Linked DNA regions of Homo sapiens. The protein of the gene in region 1 interacts with the protein of each later gene in a biochemical or structural test. Each region holds a gene or a part of one and is shown on either strand. Other genes may lie near its edges.

Region 1 (3,811 bases):
CTTGGCGGAGAAGAGGACAACATCTTGGAAAATGCAGCCTGGAACCTCTCTGCTCTCTTTCATCAGCTTTCCCTCAATGATGAGCTCAAAATCCTCTTTCTTGCTGATGGAATTGTCTGCTGTCATCATTTCAGTTGAGTCCTCCTAGGCTGGGCCTTGTAAGAAGAACAACTGTTTATAACTATTGAAAGTCAATATTTACTAAGAAAAAGAGGTTGTTGTTATCTGAGCCATCCAACATGAATTTAAGAATATATTCCAGGCTGGGCGCGGTGGCTCATGCCTGTAATCCCAGCACTTTGGGAGGCCGAGATGGGTGGATCACCTGAGGTCAGGAGTTCAAGACCAGCCTGGCCAACATGGTGAAACCCCGTCTCTACTAAAAATACAAAAATTAGCCATGCGTGGTGGCACATGCCTGTAGTTCCAACTATTTGGGACACTAAGGCAGGGGAAGTGCTTGAACTCGGGAGGCAGAGGTTGCAGTGAGCTGAGATTGTACCACTGCACTCCAGCCTGGGTAAAAAGAGTGAAATTCCATCTCAAAAAAAAAAAAGGAGACAGGGTCTTGCCCTGTTGCCCAGGCTGGAGTGCCGTGGCACGATCATAACTCACTGTGGCCTCAAATTCCTGGGCTCAACTGATTCTCCTGCCTCAGTCTCCCAAGTAGCTGGGACCACAAGTACATGCCACCATGCTAGGCTAATTTTATTTTTATTTTTAGAAAATAAAATATTTTTTATTTTATTTAGGCAACATGCTATGTTGCCTAGACTGGTCTTGAACTCCTGGCTTCAAGCTATCCTCTTGCCTCAGCCAACCAAAGTGCTGGGATTGCAGGTGTGAACTGCCATGCCTGGCTTTCTATTCTCTATTTCTAGGAGATAAGCTTTTTGAGCTTTCACATATGAGTGTGAACATGTGGTATTTATCTTTCTGTGCCTAGGTTATTCCACTTAACGTAATGTACTCCAGGCTCATCCATGTTGATGGGAATTACAGGATTTCATTCTCTTGTAATGGCTGAATAACATCCCATTTTGTGTATATAGTCCACATGTTCTTTATCCATTCCTCTTTTGATAGACACTTAGGTTGATTCCGTATCTCGGGTATTATGAGCAGTGCTGCAGTAAACATGAGAGTGCAAATATCTCTTCAACATACTGATTCCCTTTCCTTTGGATATATATTCAGCAGTGGCATTACTAGATCATGTGGTATATCTATTTTTAGGTTTTTAAGGAATCTCCATACTGTTTTCCATAATGGCTCTACTAATTTACATTCCCACCAATGATTTGGTTGAGTTTATTCCTCACTCTGAGCAGCATGTTAGCTGGACTTAAACCCCGTCCAGCTTGTCTACATCTGGCCCATCACTTGCCAGTGGGAAAGGCACTTACTTCTTTGTATCTCAGTTTTCTCATCTGTCAAATGGAAATATAACAGTAATTAATTCACATGGCTGTGTAAGGATAAATAAGACAGTACATATAAAAGGCTTTCACCTTTTATAAGAAATAGTGCTTCGATGTTACCCATTATTATTATTTTATTTCATCTTATTTATTTATTTAGATACAAGGTCTCATTTGTTGCCCAGGCTGGAGTGTAGTGGCACAATCATAGTTCAGTGCAGCCTCAAACTCCTGGCCTCAAGTGATCCTCCTCCTTCACCCTTCTCAGTATTTGGGGCCACAGGCGTGCACCACTATGACCATCTAAATTTTTTTTTAGAGATGGGGTCTCAGTATGTTGCCCGGGCTAGTCTTGAACTCCTGGGCTCAAGTGATCCTCCCACCTCAGCCTCCCAAACTGCTGGGATTACAGGCCTGAGCCACCATGCCAGGCCTCATCTCTATATCTTTAGGGTTAGTCACTGGCACCTTAATTTGTTCATTTGGTGATGTCATGTTTCTCTGATTGACCTTGATCCTTATGGCTGTGTGTCAATGTCTGTGCATTGACATAGGTACCTAAGCCAGTCTTCATTGCCTGGCTTTGTTTGGGCTCGTCTTTCATCAGGAAACCCATAGGAGATTAGGGAGAGGCTGATTGGTCAGGACCCTAAGCCCATGACTGCTTCAGCTGTTGTAGTGCTGGGGGGTGCTCTAAGCCCAGCATCACTGTGGTTGGAATTCTTTGGCCACTGAGGCTGACACAGCCCTGGGTTATGCCTGAAGGCCATAGCTGCCGAGACTGGCACAGCACTGGGGCACGCCCAAGACCCACAGCTGTGATGGCGTGCTTGCTGCTGCTGAAGTTATTCAGGGCCCAGGGCCACTGTAGTTGTCAGGTAGTGATGTGGGCCAGATCGCCAGTCCCTGTTACTGGGGCTGTGGGTTCTCATCTGGCACTAGGGTGGGGTGAGATCTGCCTGTGGGTACTGGTCTAGTATCAGGGTGATGAGGCTCTGCCCAGTACTGGGTTTTACTGTAGTGAGCCTAGTCCTGGTGACAGGTGACAGCGTGCTGGCAGCCATCACAGCCCTCGCTCGCTCTCGGTGCCTCCTCGGCCTTGGCGCCCACTCTGGCCACGCTTGAGGAGCCCTTCAGCCCACCGCTGCACTGTGGGAGCCCCTTCCTGGGCTGGCCGAGGCTGGAGTGGGCTCCCTTAGCTTGCGGGGAGGTGTGGAGGGAGAGGCAGGGGCGGGAACTGGGGCTGCACGCGGTGCTTGTGGGCCAGCGCGAGTTCCGAGTGGGCGTGGGCTCGGCGGGCCCGCACTCGGAGCGGCCAGCCGGCCGGCCTGCAAGCCCCAGGCAGTAAGGGGCTTAGCACTTGGGCCAGCAGCTGCTGTGCTCGATTTCTCGCCGGGCCTTAGCTGCCTCCTGGCAGGGCAGGGCTCGGGACCTGTAGCCCGCCATGCCTGAGCCTCCCCACCCCGCAGCCATGGGCTCCTGTGCGGACCAAGCCTCCCCGACCAGCGCCGCTCCCGGCTCCACGCCGCCGAGTCCCACCGACCACCCAAGGGCTGAGGAGTGCGGGCGCACGGCGCGGGACTGGCAGGCAGCTCCACCTGCGGCCCAGGTGTGGGATCCACTGGGTGAAGCCAGCTGGGCTCCTGAGTCTGGTGGGGACTTGGAGAATCTTTATGTCTAGCTAAGGGATTGTAAATATACCAATCGGCACTCTGTATCTAGCTCAAGGTTTGTAAACACACCAATCAGCACCCTGTGTCTAGCTCAGGGTTTGTGAATGCACCAGTCGACCCTCTGAATCTAGCTACTCTGGTGGGGACTTGGAGAACCTTTGTGTCCACACTCTGTATCTAGCTAATCTAGTGGGGACGTGGAGACGTTTTGTGTCTAGCTCAGGGATTGTAAACACACCCATCAGCACCCTGTCAAAACGGACCAATCAGCTCTCTGTAAAACAGACCAATTGGCTGTCTATAAAATGGACCAATCAGCAGGATGTGGGTGGGGCCAGATAAGAGAATAAAAGCAGGCTGCCCGAGCCAGCAGTGGCAACCTGGTCAGGTTTCCTTCCATGCTGTGGAAGCTTTGTTGTTTCATTCTTTGCAGTAAGTCTTGCTACTGCTCACTCTTTGGGTCCACACTGCCTTTATGAACTGTAACACTCACCGCGAAGGTCTGTAGCTTCACTCCTGAAGCCAGCAAGACCACAAACCAACCAGGAGGGACTAACAACTCCAGACGCGCTGCCTTAAGAGCTGTAACACTCACCGTGAAGGTCCGCAGCTTCGCTCCTGAAGCCAGCGACACCACGAACCCACCGGGAGGAACGGACATCTCCAGATGCGCCGTATTAGGAGCTGTAACACTCACCGCGAAGGTCTGCAGCTTCA
Region 2 (3,811 bases), on another chromosome or scaffold:
ACGAATCCCTTAATTCCTCTAGATATCAGTTTTCCCATGCTTTAAAGGAAGGAGTGGGATCTATGGATGTCTGGTAGATCTCTGCAATCTAGCAATGAAGTATGTCAACGATTCCCACCTTTCTCCTGGTAGTAGCACCCAAAAGCTTCATCCCGGGGGATTCGGGGATAGAGGAAGCGCAGTGGGTTTTCAGGTATATTCTCCTCAGTGAGCAACTGGTAATGGCGGATGATTTCAGTCAGCGGGAGTGACTGCAGCACCTCCTTCGTGTACGGTTGCACAGAGTAGATGAGCACCTTGTCTGGAGAGTGAATGCAGGAACAGGCGGGCTTGAGGGAAGAGGCCGGGCCTTGGAGCTCTCTGCTCTGGCTGCCCAGTCCCAAACCAGCTGAGGGATTCAGTTCAGAGCCAGGGAAGCCAAGGGCAGGCAGAGGGGCAAGAGGGGAGCCAGGCAGAAAGGAGAGGCTGTGGGAATGGCAGGGCAGAGCAGCTGACCATCATCCTGGTGCTCCACCCAGGAGCAGGTAATGCCCCCTTCTGACGATTCACTGAAGCGCAGTAGAAAGGTGCCAGACATGGTCTTCTTCAGCAGCCGGCGCTCCTGGCTCCGACTCACAAAGCCCATGATGCGTCTGGAGCACAGAGAGCAGCTGTGAGACACCGCCCAACACCCTGCCCCACCAGGCCCCTGCCTCCCTGCTCCCCTTGTATGGAGAAACAGCCCAGGTTTGGAATCCAGGCTTTGGACCAAGCCCTGCCACTTAGCTTTTTTTTATCTTTTACAAGTCACTTCACTTTGCTGACAATAGCCACCTTCCGAGGGTTTGAAGTACGAAGATTCAGTGAGATCACACAGATGAACAGCACTTTTTTTTTTTTCTGGGAGACAGGGTGTCATTCTGTCACCCAGGCTGGAGAATAGTGGCATGATCACAGCTCACTGCCACCTCGACCTCCCGGGCTCAAGCAATCTTCCCACCTCTCAGCCTCCAGAGTAGCTGGGACCACAGGTGCACACCACCATGCCTGGCTAACTTTTGTATTTTTCGTAGAGACGGGGTTTCACCACGTGGCCCAGGGTAGTTTTGAACTCCTGGGCTCAAGTGATCTGTACTCCTCAGCCTCCCAAAATGCTAGGATTACAGGCATGAGCAACCACGCCTGGCCACAAATAGCACTTTTTTTTGGTTTTGTTTTGAGACAGAGTCTTGCTCTGTCACCCAGGCTGGAGTGCAATGGCACGATCTTGGCTCACTGTAACCTTCTCTCCTGGGTTCAAGCGATTCTCCTGCCTCAGCCTCCTGAGTAGCTGGGATTACAGGCGCCCACCACCACACCCGGCTAATTTTTGTATTTTTAATAGAGATGGGGTTTCGCCATGTTGGCCAGGCTGGTCTCAAACTCCTGACCTCAGGTGATCCACCCACCTCGGCCTCCCAAAATGCTGGGATTACAGGCGTGAGCCATCGTGCCTGGTCATGAATAGCACTTTTAAAAGCCAAATGCTACACAAGTTGGTAGGCAGTGTGGTGGAAAGAGCATGGGCTTGGAGTCACATAGGCCTGGATTTGAATATCAACTGTGTCCCTTGGGTAAGTTCTTTAACTTCTCTGAAACTCAGTTTCCTCACATGAAATGAAGCTGGCAAAACCCACCACTCAGCATGGTTGTAAGGATGAGATGAGAGAATTAATGAAGAGCACCCATCAAGCTCTGGAATGTAGGAGATGCTTCACAAACACTGTTTATGGCTATTATTGGTTGTTTTTTTTTTTTTTTTTTTGAGACGGAGTCTTGCTCGTCACCCAGGCTGGAGGGCAGTGACGCAATCTCGGCTCACTGCAAGCTCCATCTCCCAGGTTCACGCCATTTTCCTGCCTCAGCCTCCTGAGTAGCTGGGACTACAGGTGTCTGCCACCACGCCCGGCTAATTTTTTGTATTTTTAGTAGAGACGGGGTTTCACCGTGTTAGCCAGGATGGTCTCGATCTCCTGACCTCATGATCCGCCCGCCTCGGCCTCCCAAAGTGCTGGGATTACAGGTGTGAGCCACCACACCCGGCCTTATTATTGTTAACAAATGTGAGGAGACGTGGCCTGCACCTGTCTTTGCTCTCTCTCCCTGCTTGCCACGTGAGGGTGCAGAGACTCCACTCTCAAGCCCGGAAAGCACAAGCCCATGAGGGAAGGGTGACCAAGGCCTTACCCATCATTCCAGAGATCCTTCAGGTGGTCATGTACCAACTCCAGAATTTTGTCCAGCCATGTCCAGAATGGTAACTTGCCAGGAGGGCTCTCTCGCTGGAGGAGGAATGGAAAGGTAGCAAAAGCTGAGGAGTTGCCTCTGGTGTAGGGAAGGAGGGACGTGGGAAGGCCAGTATTTGGAATGTGGGCTAGATCCAGCAGCTCCACAGGATTCAGGGAGTTACCTTAGTGAAGTCAGCCCAGGACAATAATGGATCCTCAGTCCTACAGTTCTGCCCTGTGGGACAGATAGCCACAGACAGATGATGAGGGAAGCCAGGGGTCCTGGGATAGATAGGACAGAGGGACAGAAAAGACTAAGGCTGGGGAAAGGCTGAGAGAAAAGGAAATCTGTACCGAACAGCTTGTTTCTCAGCATGCTCAGCTGGTCTGAGTTGAGGCCTCGGCCAACATAGGAGGAGAACTGCCAACTGAGAGCAGGGCCCAGCAAGCTCCAGGGGGCCTTGGGGGGGTTGGAGAAGAACTGCTGGTTCTGCAGGGGTGGGAGCAGTGTAGGCTGGCTCAGAAGCAACCTATCACACCAAGCTTCCACACCCCTCCTCTCGCGCCTTGACCTGTCGGCCCCACTCCCCTACCTGAAGGTTTGGGCTGAGCAAATTGAACCAGAGAACTGAAGCCCAGGCAATTGAGAGCTGGTTCATGTTGGAAATAATCACCACAGGGAGGGTGTCCGTCTGGGGAGAAGACAGGAGTCACAGAGAGGGATGTGATGTTTCTAGCTGCAGGTATTTGTTAGAGGAAAGGAGTGCTAACCCACCCCAAGAGGCTTCTGTTTATCCCCTTCTTATGCCTTCTTCCAAAGCTGCTTTCTCTCTCCTTGCCCTCCATTTTCACTCACTTTCAGCTCCTGCTTCAGACCCTGGTAGGTATATTTGACCGTGAAGCTGATGATGTGCAGTTCCTCTGTCACACCTAGTGGCCCCTGGGACAGCCAAAGACATAGTCATCAGAAGGCTCTTTGGCAAGCTCCCCCTGCCTCGAGTCCTCTGTCCAGATCTCACCTTATTGCTGCCCTTTCCTGAACCACCTGAACGTTGCTCCACCAGAGTCTGTGAATTGAAGGGAAGGAGAGAAAATGCCAGAGTGGGCACCCTAGTGTCCCTGGAACCCCTGTTTGGCTTCAAGACCTCTCAAGCCCTGGGAACTTCCCCCAACCCCTGTTCCTTTGGACTAAAAGCAGGCCAGCTATGGTGGCTCATGCCTGTGATCCCAGCACTTTGGGAGGCTGAGGCGGGTGGATCACCTGAGGTCAGGAGTTCGAGACCAGCCCGACCAATATGGTGAAACCCTATCTCTACTAAAAATACAAAAATTAGCCGGGCATGGTGGTGTGTGCCTATAGTCTCAGCTACTCAGGAGGCTGAGACAGAAGAATTGCTTGAACCCGGGAGGCGGAGGTTGCTGTGAGCCAAGATGGCACCACTGCACTCCAGCCTGGGGGACAGAGTGAGACTCCGTCTCAAAAAAATAAAAATAGTAATAAAAGCATAGGTCACAAACTATTCTTACCAGGTAACCAAAGTCCCAAATCAAACCCTGACTCTGCC

The links.
Region 2: the proteins of USP18 (region 1) and STAT2 form a complex in vitro, tested with the Homo sapiens proteins (one study listed by BioGRID).

What each region holds. Positions count from the first base shown.
Region 1 is NC_000022.11:18,152,886-18,156,696, forward strand, and holds part of USP18 (ubl carboxyl-terminal hydrolase 18), read left to right. Parts: intron 1-3,811. UniProt on the Homo sapiens protein: Interferon-induced ISG15-specific protease that plays a crucial role for maintaining a proper balance of ISG15-conjugated proteins in cells. Regulates protein ISGylation by efficiently cleaving ISG15 conjugates linked via isopeptide bonds.
Region 2 is NC_000012.12:56,346,324-56,350,134, forward strand, and holds part of STAT2 (signal transducer and activator of transcription 2), read right to left. Parts: coding exon 3,774-3,811; intron 3,314-3,773; coding exon 3,266-3,313; intron 3,187-3,265; coding exon 3,103-3,186; coding exon of another isoform or gene 3,049-3,102; exon of another isoform or gene 3,022-3,048; intron 2,939-3,021; coding exon 2,840-2,938; intron 2,761-2,839; coding exon of another isoform or gene 2,737-2,760; coding exon 2,601-2,736; intron 2,529-2,600; coding exon of another isoform or gene 2,482-2,528; coding exon 2,429-2,481; intron 2,301-2,428; coding exon 2,206-2,300; intron 880-2,205; coding exon of another isoform or gene 849-879; exon of another isoform or gene 662-848; intron 633-661; coding exon 496-632; intron 302-495; coding exon 119-301; intron 1-118. UniProt on the Homo sapiens protein: Signal transducer and activator of transcription that mediates signaling by type I interferons (IFN-alpha and IFN-beta).